4 linked regions of the Homo sapiens genome follow. The protein of the gene in region 4 interacts with the protein of the main gene of each other region in a pairwise test. Each region holds a gene or a part of one and is shown on either strand. Other genes may lie near its edges.

The links. Proteins that work in one complex are often made in the same cells at the same time.
Region 1: the proteins of YAF2 (region 4) and PCDH17 interact in binary tests that used the Homo sapiens proteins (3 or more experiments, as listed by UniProt).
Region 2: the proteins of YAF2 (region 4) and XAGE1B interact in binary tests that used the Homo sapiens proteins (3 or more experiments, as listed by UniProt).
Region 3: the proteins of YAF2 (region 4) and CD300LF interact in binary tests that used the Homo sapiens proteins (3 or more experiments, as listed by UniProt).

What each region holds. Positions count from the first base shown.
Region 1 is NC_000013.11:57,722,244-57,725,743, reverse strand, and holds part of PCDH17 (protocadherin-17 precursor), read right to left. Parts: intron 1,133-3,500; coding exon 450-1,132; 3' UTR 1-449. UniProt on the Homo sapiens protein: Potential calcium-dependent cell-adhesion protein.
Region 2 is NC_000023.11:52,514,264-52,518,459, reverse strand, and holds the start of XAGE1B (X antigen family member 1), read left to right. Parts: upstream 1-1,396; 5' UTR 1,397-1,480; exon of another isoform or gene 1,481-1,609; coding exon of another isoform or gene 1,610-1,800; intron 1,801-2,886; coding exon of another isoform or gene 2,887-2,932; coding exon 2,933-3,028; coding exon of another isoform or gene 3,029-3,044; intron 3,045-3,555; coding exon 3,556-3,682; intron 3,683-4,196.
Region 3 is NC_000017.11:74,706,424-74,709,923, reverse strand, and holds part of CD300LF (CMRF35-like molecule 1 isoform 1 precursor), read left to right. Parts: intron 1-3,500. UniProt on the Homo sapiens protein: Acts as an inhibitory receptor for myeloid cells and mast cells.
Region 4 is NC_000012.12:42,228,249-42,231,748, forward strand, and holds part of YAF2 (YY1-associated factor 2), read right to left. Parts: exon of another isoform or gene 2,974-3,500; intron 1-2,973. UniProt on the Homo sapiens protein: Binds to MYC and inhibits MYC-mediated transactivation. Also binds to MYCN and enhances MYCN-dependent transcriptional activation. Increases calpain 2-mediated proteolysis of YY1 in vitro.

The DNA.
Region 1 (3,500 bases), on a different chromosome or scaffold from region 4:
CACCACAGATCACAAATTATGACCCTGCTTTGTATGGGGTTTATAGGTAAACAGTTAAGTCAGCATAAATCACGGAGGACAGTCTGAGAGTGATCAGAAATACTTCAGTTCTCACACTGCATACCTTCCTAACAGATTGTCAAAAGGTAATTCTTCTCCTCATCCTCCTTTTTCATCTCTCCTTTTTCTTCTCTCTTTTTTTCTTTTCTCTTTAAGCATCATTAATTCTGTCCTAATACAAGTTTGGTCAAAACGAAACCATTGTTATCTCTGAAAAAGAAATCAGCAGTGGAAAGAACATACTTGTGGGCACTTCAGATGTTCACTAAAAGCCTTAAAGCAGCATTGGTCTTTCTTCATCCCTGTAAAATGGGTTATCACCAGGAGGGATCATTTTTAAATCAACAGAAGAGACAAGAAAATGCCAATGCCTTTTTTTTTTTCTTTTTTCACTTTCTCACAGCCACAGGGTCGTTTCCCCGGCAGTCTTGCAAAAGCTTATCAATTTCTCTCACAACTTCCTCTGCATCCACAGACTCTCTGCCCAGATCCCTGTTGGGGTGGTCAAGCTGCTCAAGAACAGCACCCATCTCACTGGAATCCCGGCTGGCTCTGGAATGCACATCTGCAAAGACCCTTGCCATCTGATCGGAAGCCATGAAGGGAGGGTCTCTTGGTTGCTTACTAGGTGACAGATATTGACTGTCAGTGGGCAAGTACTGACTGCTTGCTTCAGCCAGGGCTCCTGGTTTTGCTTCACAGCCATCCAGGGAGCCTTTTGTTGAGGTGCAAGGCTCGATGCACGCCTTGGTTGGGCTGCTTGATGCTGAGGGGACCTCTTGGAGGAGAGGGCTCAGGGCACGTTTGGCTTTTAAATAAGGTTTAACGTTGGCAATGAGAATAGTGTGCTCTCGCTTGTCTTTTCCAAATGTACAAAAAGTCTTTTTCCCAGTGGGATTCACAGTTTCGTAAGTCTCAGTCTCAACATTAGCTTCAACTGTAGGTACAAAGAGATTTGTGCGGTAATCTGCATTTTCAGCCTGATTGGCTGCAGGGAACTGTGGCATCCAGCACCTGTCAGAATGACCAAGCACTCGGCATTCATCTGTGCAATTAACACACTCTTCTGGTTCTGCAAAACAAAAGAGAAAACAGCAAATCCAATCATTAGAGTTTTCTTTAAATTTCTACAGAGGCTGTGATCAGCTCTCAATGGGCTTGCTTGACCTCTGGTCTCTTAATTAAAAAGGAAAAGAAAACAATAATTAAAACATTTCAGGATGGTTGCATAAACCTGCTGGTTGAGACAATGGTTTAATTTAAGTCTATTCTCTAGAGATTAATGAATTCCCACAGCCTGGGAAGAAGTAAGATGTGGCCATTGGAGAATCATTCTCAGTAGAATAGAGCATCACCATAAACTAAACTCCTGGGAATATCAGTTAGTCTTTGTTCTGTATAACTCATCCTAGAAACAGTGAACTTCAAAAAAGATTATCAGGATTATTTTTTTCAAATCAAATAACAAGGCAAAAACTGGATTGCAAACTTCCATAACAAGTTCTAAGCTGCTCTTTAAAAAACGTTTTATCACTATTTTGCTTGTAATTGTTATTTGGATGACAGTCATGAAATAAAAGGTTTCCTTTAAATGCTTACTTTTCCTACTGAGAGTGGCAAATGGAATTTTTTATCAGGACGTATTATGAATAAGCTTGTCAAAAAGTGCACATCTCTATTTTATTAGATAGGCGTATGGATCATGTAATCAGTTTTCTGTTCAGCTTTTTGTTTTGGGTGTAAGTAGGTGAAAATGCATTTACTCAACAGATACAGGTCAGAATGAATGACAAATCATGATTTCCCATTTTAAATAATAATGCTTTCTGTGGGAATTTTTACTTTTTTCCTTTGCCAATAGAGACTCTAAATAAAGCATTCTTTTAATGATCTCTATTTCACAGATGCTGAATGTGGAATATGAAAAAAAATCCTTAATTATAGAAGAGCTGCATACTTCCATTGACCCCAATATTTTAAACCATAACTTTGAGCTACATCGTCCCAGTTGTCCCTTTCTTATATAAATGATTGTGCCCATTGTGGTTAATGACTGTTTCTAAATCAGAGACTTTTACTTTTAGGAGAGGATATTTACAATTTACCTTTATGTAATGGGAATAGAAGTCCCTACACTTTTAGGCGCCCTTGGGATTTGCCATTTAATTGGTGCTAGATGATCTCTACACATTTAGAGTGTCCTGTGCAAGAAAAGGATGTCCACATGAAACATATATTTAAAATAGCAGCAAATGTAATAGCATTGATAAATTTGTATATCACTTCTCAAAGTTATATATGAAACCTAAATTTATACTTAAAGCATGTAAATAATTATTTACATTAAAAAGCCCACAATCTGTTTTATCTCAAAAGGTTTTAAGATAAAACAATTTCTTAAGAGGCTGAAATTTTTAGGAAGAAATCAAAATGGTGTCTTGAGAAAACAAAGATACTATGTTATTTATTCACACCTGTGAAACCTCAAAAAAAATTAGGTATCTTTCTTCTATTTTAATTTTGTCATTTTTTAAAAGAAATGTTTTCTTATGAGTAAATTAAATATTCACTGTTAAATTTATTATGCAGGAAAGAATGCTGAAAAGCAGTCACACAGTGCATCCACAGACGCAAATACTATCTACAAATCGAAAGACTGTTAGACAGACATGAAGAACAGCAGAAACTAGGCATTATTTTTTTTCAGAAGCCTCTATTTATGTATTTAAATTAGAACTGAAATTTTTTAAAAGGGGGTATCAGAAGTTCAATATTGGCCAGGTATAGTGGCTTATGCCTATAATCCCAGCACTTTGGGAGTCTGAGGCAGGAGGATTGCTTGAGCCCAGGAGTTTGAGACTAGCCTGGGCAACATAGCAAGACACCCCTCTACAAAAATAAAAAATTTAAATTAGCCAGGTGAGGTGGTGCATGCAGCTACGCGGCAGGCTGAGGAAGGAAGATGGCTTGAGCCCAGGAGTTCAAGGCTGCAGTAAGCTGTAATCATGCCATTTCACTGCAGCCTGAGTGACAGAGTTAAACCCTGTCTCAAAATAAATAAGTAAATAAATACATAGAAAAGCAAAAAGAAAGGTTCAATATCAGGTATCAGTCATTTGTTTCCTTTACCTACTCTAAATGGGAATCATAAATATTACCTTTATTTATATCTGTCAGTAAATGTTAAAAAAATCATTTCAACAAATAGATAACTTTCAACAAATTTTATCTTTCAGAAAGAAGGAAAAGTAGAAAACTTTACAATCTATTTCACTCAGTAATACTTTTGTATCTTCTAGCATCATGAAATTTTTTAAAAAATTCATTTATAACTCATACACTGTCTTTGAAATATGCTAATGTAGTTTCATGTTTCATATTGACTGGCCTTTCATTGCAGCTATTTGGATAGCTAACACTGAATGAATTCAGTATGAATT
Region 2 (4,196 bases), on a different chromosome or scaffold from region 4:
TTATAAAACTGGCCAAGGTGGGAGGATCACTTGAGCCCAGGAAATTGAGACCAGCATGGGCAACACAGTGAGACCACTATCTAAAAAATAAATAAATAATAAATAAACCAATTACCCAGGTGTGGTGTCTGCACCTGTAGTAGCAGGGACTGGGGAGGCTACATCGGGAGGATTGTTTGAGCCCAGGAGATGGAGGCTTCAGTGAGGTATGGTCATGCCACTGCCCTCCAGCCTGAGCAACAGAGTGACACTCTGTCTGGAAAAAAAAATAAATAAAAACGGCTTTATAAATAAAGATATGAAAATAATTTATTTCTTCCACAAAAGGTCTTCCTGAGACACATCCTCCAGTAAGGGACTGTCTGTTCCCAACGTTTCTGAATGCATGAGATTGGACAAAGAGAGACGAAAGCTCTCAAGTCCCTTTTTCTACTACAAACGCCATGGGGATGCGGGTCTGGGAACAGCGGAAAACCCTACCCTGCCCTGAAAAGTCCCTGGCTCAATGTGCATGTCCCTTTCTATGAAAGTTCCTTGCTGCCTATGCGCCTTGCTCTCTAACTTCTGTCCCTCCACAACTGTGAAAGGAGACGTCGTGACTTCCTTCTTTCGTGCTGACTATGACTTAGCCAGTAGGTCTGCAGATCAGTCCTCCCAGAAAGTGAAGTGTGAGTGAGTGTGAGGGGGAGCGTGGGGGGCTTCCTGTGGGTTGTGCCACTTGGTCCATGGCCTCTGAGGTCGTCATCTTTCTACTAAAACTCAGCGATACTGCCATGGCCTTGCTGTTGTGGGGTCCCGGGCATGGGACGAAGGAGGGCCATAGCGGGGAGGAGGGTCAGGTGAGCATGGAGTGAGTTTTTTTTTTTTTTTCACGGAGTCTTGCTCTGTCACCAGGCTGGAGTGCAGTGGCGCAATCTCGGCTCACTGTAACCTCCGCCTCCCGGGTTCAAGTGATTCTCCTGCCTCAGCCTCCCGAGTAGCTGGGAGTACAGGCGCGCACAACCACACCCAGCTAATTTTTGTATTTTTCAGTAGAGACGGGTTTTAACCATGTTGGCGAGGATGGTCTCGATCTCTTGGCCACATGATCCACCCGCCTCCGCCCCCCAAAGTGCTGGGATTACAGGCGTGAGCCACCGCGCCCGGTCATGGAGTGAGTTTTGAAGGCTGACTTTATTTGAGGTATTTGAGTCCTGGTGGGGGGGAACCCACACACAGAGAGGAGGGATTCCAAAGTCGTTAATGGGGACCTGGGAAGGAGCATAGGACAGGGCAAGGCGGGATAAGGAGGGGCACCACAGCCCTTAAGGCACGAGGGAACCTCACTGCGCATGCTCCTTTGGTGCCCACCTCAGTGCGCATGTTCACTGGGCGTCTTCCCATCGGCCCCTTCGCCAGTGTGGGGAACGCGGCGGAGCTGTGAGCCGGCGACTCGGGTCCCTGAGGTCTGGATTCTTTCTCCGCTACTGAGACACGGCGGGTAGGTCCACAGGCAGATCCAACTGGGAGTTGAAGTGTGAGTGAGAGTGAAGAGGAACCAGCAGGCTTCCGGAGGGTTGTGTGGTCAGTGACTCAGAGTGAGAAGGCCCTCGAAGTCGTCGTCCCTCTCATGCGGTGCCACGCCCATGGACCTTCTTGTCTCGTCACGGCCATAACTAGGGAGGAAGGAGGGCCGAGGAGTGGAGGGGCTCAGGCGAAGCTGGGGTGCTGTTGGGGGTATCCGAGTCCCAGAAGCACCTGGAACCCCGACAGAAGATTCTGGACTCCCCAGACGGGACCAGGAGAGGGACGGCATGAGCGGTATGGAAGGGTCCTGGAGACGGGGCATGCTGCGGGCTAGTGACCGCAGCCCCGAGGTCTGTAGAGTGCCTGGCATAGGGGTCCTGTGAGGAGTGCCCACTGCTGTGTAGCAAATTCTCAACTCCACTGTGGAGATTCCAATGGGCGGGGCCCTGAGTTCCTAAAAATGTGACTTTGGGGTGGGGGGGAAGTGGGCCTAGCAAATCATTATGTGACAAAATTGGTGGTCACTGCAGTTTCAGTTCTGTAGCTGTAATTTCCTACTTGTCTCCCTGATGGAGTGTCCAGTTGTGAAACCAACCTCATGGGAAATGCCCTGTGTTTTTTGCCAGGAGCCTTAAGACATCGCTCAGCTAGCTAGACCTACTTAAGTGGCTTTGCAAGCATTCGATTCAAAAGGTGCATACACTTATACTTGCCCGGGGACTTTCAGAGTATTTCTAAATTAAAAAAAAAAAAAATGTCCAAGTTAACATTTGACCATGAAAGCGGTCAAATCTAGTTGTCCTGTCAAGTGCATTTTCCCAATCGCAGTATTCTGCTTGCAGAGTGAAGTATGTGTTGATGAGGACGATCAACATATAGGCCTATGCCAAGAAGTTCACAACCTCCTGAGCTCATTGTGCCTCTGCTTGTGAATGTCTTAACATTCGATGTTTTCTCTTAGCAGAAAGTTATTTTTCTGATAGTGTTGATGGACTAGTATGGATACACTGATAATGGTCTCCCATGCTGATAAAAAATGATCATGGCATCCCATGAAGGAAAGATTAGTCCAGAGGGTTATATTTGGGTTTTGTGTGGGTGGATGATCGTGTGTGCCCAGATTTTGTCCATAACTTCCTCCTCATGCTTATTCAGAACAGATTACACACATTCATCCCAACATTGATTAAAACGGCTTCCAAAGTCCCTGAGGATATCTGTCTTTGAGTAACCTCTCTGAGGGAAGAATAGTGTTATGAAGATTAGGTATACGGGGTAGTGTTGGAGAAATGTCTCTAGACATACTTATAATAAGACATACCTGTGTATTCTGTATATTTATATTATTGACATGTATTAATAACAAAACTTTTTATCTAGACACACACAAACACAGAACCACACAGCCAGTCCCAGGAGCCCAGTAATGGAGAGCCCCAAAAAGAAGAACCAGCAGCTGAAAGTCGGGATCCTACACCTGGGCAGCAGACAGAAGAAGATCAGGATACAGCTGAGATCCCAGGTGCTGGGAAGGGAAAGTATGTCTATGGGGCGGGAGAAGGTCTATGTGTGCATTGTGGCCTATGCCATGAGCAGTAACAGGAGCAAAGAGAACATTAGGAAAAGATACCAAACATTTGCTCAAAGTTGGCTGGAAAAGGGAGAGTATAGTTTGCAGCTTCATGCTGTCCCTGGATATAATGAATCTTCTCTTGTTCTTCGAGATGGATTTTGTATGCTTGAAAATACAGTCCTTACTAAATCACTTGAAACCATTTAATTTGGTGTATAGAAATGTACATTTTTTTATTATGTGGCAGAGGCTCATCTGTCACGCAGTGTGGATTGTTGTGGCATGATCTTGGCTCACTGCCACCTCCAGCTCTTGGGTTCAAGCGACCTCGGCCTCCCAAAGTGCTGAGATTACAGGCATGAACCACTACGCCTGGCTCAGGCTTTATTTCGTAACGCGAAGGAAGAGAATATTATCATTTCCTTATTTATATTTCATGTTGGAATGCTTAAATCGATAACCTTTGTATTTTGAAGTGCGCGACATGGAAGGTGATCTGCAAGAGCTGCATCAGTCAAACACCGGGGATAAATCTGGATTTGGGTTCCGGCGTCAAGGTGAAGATAATACCTAAAGAGGAACACTGTAAAATGCCAGAAGCAGGTATGTTATCCAGCAAGATGCAAAGTTATGTGCTTTCTCATTTACACAGTATTATACTTTTGATAATAGAGGGATAACATTAGTGCTACTTTAAAAACACAGTGCAAATGCAAATGTTCTTTGAAACGTCGTTCAGACCCAAATGCCAGATTGCAAGACTTAAACACTATCAGATACAGAAACAAATTGGGTCAAAGCCATATTGAATCATCAAACGTGACAGCATTTTCTTAGTTTGGTGTATAACCAACAGCTAACAATTTTCAGATTCTTTTCTAATTTCTGCTTTTAACAAACACATAATGCATTTGTAATACCAGTTTGTGTGAAGTATGCTGAGCCCTGAAGCAGATTCTAGTACCAGCTCTACCATAATTTGTGAGAGTCTGGATGAATCGTATAAATTCCACAGGCATCCTTGCTCTTAGTGAAAAGAGTGGATGCACATCAGATAGATTAAAATCCATTTCGTTGCTAATTTCCACATGCTCTGGTTCTGTTGGATAGAAGACCA
Region 3 (3,500 bases), on a different chromosome or scaffold from region 4:
TGATGTCAATAGGAATGCCTATAGTATTTCACTGTTAAGAATAATTTGGCTGGTGATGCATGATGGCTCAAGCCTGTAATCCCAGCACTTTGTGAGGCTAAGGCAGGCAGATCGGTTGAGTCCAGGAGTTTGAGACCAGCTTGGGCAACAAAGTGAGACCTTGTCTCTCCAAAAAAAAAAATACTAGCCTGGTATGGTGGTGCATGCCTGTGGTCCTGTCGTCCCAGCTACATAAGAGGTTACAGCAAAAGGATCACTTGAGCCCAGGACTTGAGGCTGCAGTGACCCATGTTCGTACCAGTGCACTCCGGCCTGGGTGACAGGCGACCAAGCAAGACTCCATCTCAAAAAAAAAAGAATAATTTGGCTCTTGGTTTATGGTGTCCTAAAAGTCTTTTTAATTGTGGAAAATAAAATGTACAAAAAAGTGCATAAAACTTCAACATCCATGTTAACAAATTATTATAAAGTACATATGAATGTCTCGCACTAAGTGTGGTGCTTGCTGAGGTTTTTGATAGACAATCTTTATCAGATAAAGGCAGTTCTCTTAGTTTGCTAAGAGTTTTTAAAAAATCATGAATGAGCGTTGATTCCTATCACTACTTCTCTCTGCACCTAAGATGATCACAAGATTTTTCTCCTTGACTCTGTTAATATGGCATATTACCCTTATTGATTTTCTTTTTTCCTTTTTTTTTTTGAGTCAGTCTTGCTCTGTCTCCAGGCTGGAGTGCAGTGGTGTGATCTTGGCTCACTGCAACCTCCGCCTCCTGGGTTTAAGCGATTCTCCTGCCTCAGCCTCCCGAGCAGCTGGGACTACAGGCGCCCGCCACCACGCCCAGCTAATTTTTTGAATTTTTAGTAGAGACGGGGTTTCACCATGTTGGCCAGGATTGTCTCGATCTCTTGGCCTCGTGATCTGCCTGACTCGGACTCCCAAAGTGCTGGGATTGCAGGTGTAAACCACCGTGCCTGGCCTCCTTATTGATTTTCCTTTTTTTTTTTGAGACGGAGTCTTGCTCTGTCGCCCAGGCTGGAGTGCAGTGGCGCGATCTCGGCTCACTGCAAGCTCCGCCCCCCCGGGTTCACGTCATTCTCCTGCCTCAGCCTCCGAGTAGCTGGGACTACAGGCGCCCGCCACCACGCCTGGCTAATTTTTTGTATTTTTAGTAGAGACAGGGTTTCACCGTGTTAGCCAGGATGGTCTCGATCTCCTCACCTCCTGATCCGCCCGCCTTGGCCTCCCAAAATGCTGGGATTACCGGTGTAAGCCACCGCGTCCAGCCTCCTTATTGATTTTTTAATGTTAAAAACCATTTTGGGTGTTTGGCATAAACCCAACTTGGTGATAATGTTTTATCCTGTTTATGTATCACCAGATTCCGTATGCTGATCTTTTGTTTCAGGTTTTTGCATTTATGTTAATGAGTGATATTTGCCTACAATACTTTCTTGCTTTGCCCTTGTCAGGTTTTGGCATCAAGATTATGTTAATCTCGTGAAATGGATTTGGGATTTCATCTTCTTTTTCTATGCTCTGGAAAATTATCTATAAAATAGACATTATTTCTTCTTTACGTGTTTGGTAAATATTTCCATTGAAGCTGTATGGGTCTGGAGTTTTATTCTGGCGGAAGTTTTAAACAAGGGATTTGATTTATTTAAATATAATAGCTGTGGAATGATTCAGGTTTTCTATTTATTTTGTGCTGATTTTAGCATATTGTATTTTTTTTCTTTTCTTTCTTTTTCTTTTTTCTTTTTTTTTTTTTTGAGATGGAGTCTTGTTCTGTTGTTCAGCCTGGAGTGCAGTGATGTGATCTCGGCTCACTGAAACTTCCACCTCCTGGGTTCAAGCGATTCTCCTGTCTCAGTCTCCCAAGTGGCTGGGGCTACAGGTGTGTGCCACCACGCCAGGCTAATTTTTGTATTTTTAGTAGAGATGGGGTTTCACCATGTTGGCCAGGCTGGTCTTGAACTCCTGACTTCAGGTGATCCACCTGCCTCGGCCTCTCACAGTGCCTGGCCTGTATAATTTTTTTCTAGGAATTTGTTTATTCCATCTCAAATTGTAAATTCATTGGCATAACATTGTTTAAATATCCTTTTATTATTATATCCTTTTATCTTATTCATGGTTTATTAACTTTTTAATATGTGCAGGATATACAGTCATATACCACTTTTAATTTTTTTTTTTTTTTCTGAGATGGAGTCTCACTCTGTTGCTCGGGCTGGAATGCAGTGGCACGATCTTGGCTCACTGCAACCTCCGCCTCCCAGGTTCAGACGATTCTCCCACCTCAGCCTCCCAAGTAGCTGGGATTACAGGTGCACTCCACCACACCTGGTTAATTTTTGTATTTTTAGTAGAGACAAGATTTCACCATGTTGCCTAGGCTGGTCTCAAACTCCTGACTTCAGATGATCCACCCAATGTGGCCTCCCAAAGTGCTGGAATTACAAGTGTGAATACTGTGCCTGACCCTCTTTTGGTTTTAATTTGCATTTTTCTGGTGATCAGAGATGTTGAGCATTTAAAAATAGATCTGTTGCCCATTTATAGCTCCTCTTTTGAGAAATATCTGGTCAGATTCCTTGCCCAGTTTTTAATTAGATTATTTGTTTTCTTGTTACTGATTTGTTTGAGTTCCTTATGTATTTTGGATATCAGCTCTTTGTCAGATTTATGGTTTGCAAATATTTTCTCTCACTCTGTAGGTTGTCGCTTCATTCTCTTGGTTGTTTCCTTTGCTGTGCAGAAGCTCTTTGGTTTTGTGAGTCCCATTTGTCTAGTTTTGCTTTTGTTGCCTGTGCTTTTGGCGTCCTCTCCAAGACATCATCGCCAAGACCAATGTTGTGGAGCTTTTCCATTAGGTTTTCTTCTGAGAGATTTAAGTTTCAGGTCTTACATTTACATCTTCTCTATTGTGAGTTGATTTTTGTATATGTTGTGAGATAAAGGTCCGGCTTCATTCTTCTGGACGTGGATGTCGAGTTTTCCCAGCACTGTTTATTGAAGAGACTGTCCTTTCCCCATTGTGTGTTCTTGTCACAGGGCCCGCTTCTTTCCCCAGGACCCGGGCTGGAGTGGAAGGAGGGCTGTGCCTTCGCATGGATACCCTGCTCTCCAATCCAGGCTGCCGTGGTCCTCACCCCTTCCCAGGGTCTCTCTGACACTGAGGCCCTCTGTCCGCGCCGTTGGTTGTTGTGCTTGAACTGCTGGTTTTTGTTTTGTTTTGTTTTGTTTTTGAGATGGAGTTTTGCTCTTGTTGCCCAGGCTGGAGTGCTATGGCGCCATCTTGGCTCATTGCAACCTCTGCCTCCCGGGTTCAAGCGATTCTCTTGCCTCAGCCTCCCGAGTAGCTGGGATTACAGGCATGTGCCATCATGCCAGGCTAATTTTTCTATGTTTAGTAGAGATGGCGTTTCTCCATGTTGGTCAGGCTGATCTCGAACTCCCAACCTCATGTTGGGAATTTATATATATATGTTCT
Region 4 (3,500 bases):
GGTGTCGGCCCCCCGCCCGCGCCAGCCGCCCCGTCCGGGAGGGAGGTGGGGGGGGGTCAGCCCCCCTGCCCGGCCAGCCACCCCATCCGGGAGGTGAGGGGCGCCTCTGCCCGGCCGCCCCTACTGGGAAGTGAGGAGCCTCTCTGCCCGGCCAGCCGCCCCGTCCGGGAGGGAGGTGGGGGGGTCAGCCCCCCGCCTGGCCAGCCGCCCCGTCCGGGAGGGAGGTGGGGGGGGGGGGTCAGCCCCCCCGCCTGGCCAGCCGCCCCGTCCGGGAGGTGAGGGGTGCCTCTGCCCGGCCGCCCCTACTGGGAAGTGAGGAGCCCCTCTGCCCGGCCAGCCGCCCCGTCAGGGAGGGAGGTGGGGGTGTCAGCCCCCCGCCCGGCCAGCCGCCCCGTCCGGGAGGGAGGTGGGGGGGGGGTCAGCCCCCCTGCCCGGCCAGCCGCCCCGTCCGGGAGGTGAGGGGCGCCTCTGCCCGGCCGCCCCTACTGGGAAGTGAGGAGCCCCTCTGCCCGGCCAGCCGCCCCGTCCGGGAGGGAGGTTGGGGGGTCAGCCCCCCGCCCGGCCAGCCGCCCCGTCCGGGAGGTGAGGGGCGCCTCTGCCCGGCCACCCCTACTGGGAAGTGAGGAGCCCCTCTGCCCGGCCACCACCCCGTCTGGGAGGTGTGCCCAACAGCTCATTGAGAACGGGCCATGATGACAATGGCGGCTTTGTGGAATAGAAAGGCGGGAAAGGTGGGGAAAAGATTGAGAAATCGGATGGTTGCCGTGTCTGTGTAGAAAGAAGTAGACATGGGAGACTTTTCATTTTGTTCTGCACTAAGAAAAATTCCTCTGCCTTGGGATCCTGTTGATCTGTGACCTTACCCCCAACCCTGTGCTCTCTGAAACATGTGCTGTGTCCACTCAGGGTTAAATGGATTAAGGGCGGTGCAAGATGTGCTTTGTTAAACAGATGCTTGAAGGCAGCATGCTCGTTAAGAGTCATCACCAATCCCTAATCTCAAGTAATCAGGGACACAAACACTGCGGAAGGCCGCAGGGTCCTCTGCCTAGGAAAACCAGAGACCTTTGTTCACTTGTTTATCTGCTGACCTTCCCTCCACTATTGTCCCATGACCCTGCCAAATCCCCCTCTGTGAGAAACACCCAAGAATTATCAATAAAAAAATAAATTAAAAAAAAAAAAAAACATTTAAATATCTACAATACTTCAGGTATTTTATTAGCTTCTGGGAATACCAAAGTGAATAAGACGGTCTCTGCCCTGTAGGGCAGATAAGTGTCTAGACAATTATACTACAATATATTTATTCTCCAGGAATAATTACATATACATACAGCCATGCATCATTTAATGACGGATATGTTCTGAAAAATGCATCGTTAGGTGATTTCATTGTCAGAACATCATAGAATGTATTTATACAAACCTAGATGGTACAGCCTACTACATACCTAGGCTATATGGTAGAGCCTATTGCTCTGAAGCTACAGGTGTACAGGATGTTACTATACTGAATGTTGCAGGTAATTGTAACACCATGGTAAGTATTTGTATCTAAACATAGAAAAAGTAGAGTAAAAATATAGTATCATTTTATGGGACTGTATATGTGGTCCCCCACTCACCAAAAATGTCATTATGGAGTGCATGACTGACTCTACATACATAGAATCAATATGATACCAAGGGGTGGAGGGATGGTAATCCTAGAGGGCTTCTTTGAAAAGTACCATATGGTGGCTTACGCCTGCAATCACAGCATTTTGGGAGGCTGAGGCAGGCGGATCACGAGGTCAGGAGATGGAGACCATCCTGGCCAACATGGTGAAACCCTGTCTCTACTAAAAATAAAAAAATTAGCTAGGTATGGTGGCACACGTCTGTAATCCCAGCTACTCAGGAGGCTGAGGCAGGAGAATCGCTCAAATCTGGGAGGCGGAGATTGCAGTGAGCCAAGATCGCGCTACTGCACTCCAGCCTGGCGACAGAGCAAGACTCCTTCAAGAAAGAAAAGAAAGAGAAGAAAGAGAAGAAAGAGAAGAAAGAAAGAAAGAGAAAGAAAAAGTACCATATGATAAAAATAATTCAGTGCTGACACAGCACAGGATTGGGATAAGCAGCAGGAAATGAAGCTAGGAAGGTAGTTTAGGGATAGATTATTATTATGGCCTTGAACACTATCCTAAGGATCTCAGCCTTTATTCAGCAGCCACTAATAGGACTCAATTTTTTTTTTAAATATACAGGGACCAACATAATCACATAGGTTTCAAAAAAGATAATGAAGATCATGTTAGTAGCATTCCAAAGGAGAGACCAATTTGTCCAATAGTTCATGACAGAAGTGATATGGGCTTCTGAACTGTAACTACATAAAAGGAAAAAGGATAGATTTAAGAGACAATCCAGAGAAAGGACATGAAGGAGGACTACAAATTAGAATCAAAGCTGAGACAATGACAGTTTCTAGCTGAGGTTCCAGAAAGGAGTTTATGCCACATACAAAGTAAAGAATATACAGATGCCAAGTTTGGGGAGGCAGAAATGGGTTTCAGAGATATACACAGAAATCTATGAAAAAGGAGTCTTAGAGACATGAAGGAAGTAGAGTTTCAATTTAAAAAGGGCCAAGAACATCAAATACTTTGGAGGCGACATCAACAGATGAGTGAGATTGGGCCACTGAGTTAAACAACTAGGATATTAGTTATCAGGCCTCACACTATAAAGGAAATAAAAAGAATACCTGCTGAAGTAAAGCCATTGCATGTAGAAACCCAAGCCAATAAACTCTAGACCAGCAGTTCACAAACTTTTTGGTCTTAGGATCATTTACACTCTTAAAATTTAAGAGTTTTTGTTTTTTGTTTTTCTTAATGTGGGTCATCTATCAATGTTTACTATATTAGAAATAAAAACTGATAAAAATCTAAATATATTAGTTCATTTAAAAAATAAATACATCACATATTAAATGACATATTTTTATTTTAAAAACTTATTATTTTCCAAAACAAAGATATTTTGTATGAAGAGTGGCATCGTATATTTTTGCAAACCTCTAACATCTGGTTAGTAGAAGACACCTGGATTGTCACATCTATCTCAGCATTCAATTTGTTGCAATATGTTGTTTTGGTCCAAAAATATTAAGAAAATCTGGACTCTCACAGATATACAGTTGAAAAGAGGTAAGTAGTTGAATAGCATTTTCAGATAACTATAGGTGTTATTCTTTGATACTACATAAAAACACAGTTGTTTCTCAAAGGTTAGTTGCAATATGAAATCTGAAACCACATCAATGAAGTTTTCAGTGTTCCCTTAAAATCTGTTGGTATTTTGTACTTTGATGGATTACCCATTACAGTTTTGTAAAATCATACATCGGTAACTAGGAACCATTTGTTTGCTGAGTTATGCGTAGCTTCCAAATGCTGACACATTTCATGGTGAAATATCAGAAATTATATTCATTGATACCACCACTAATCTTC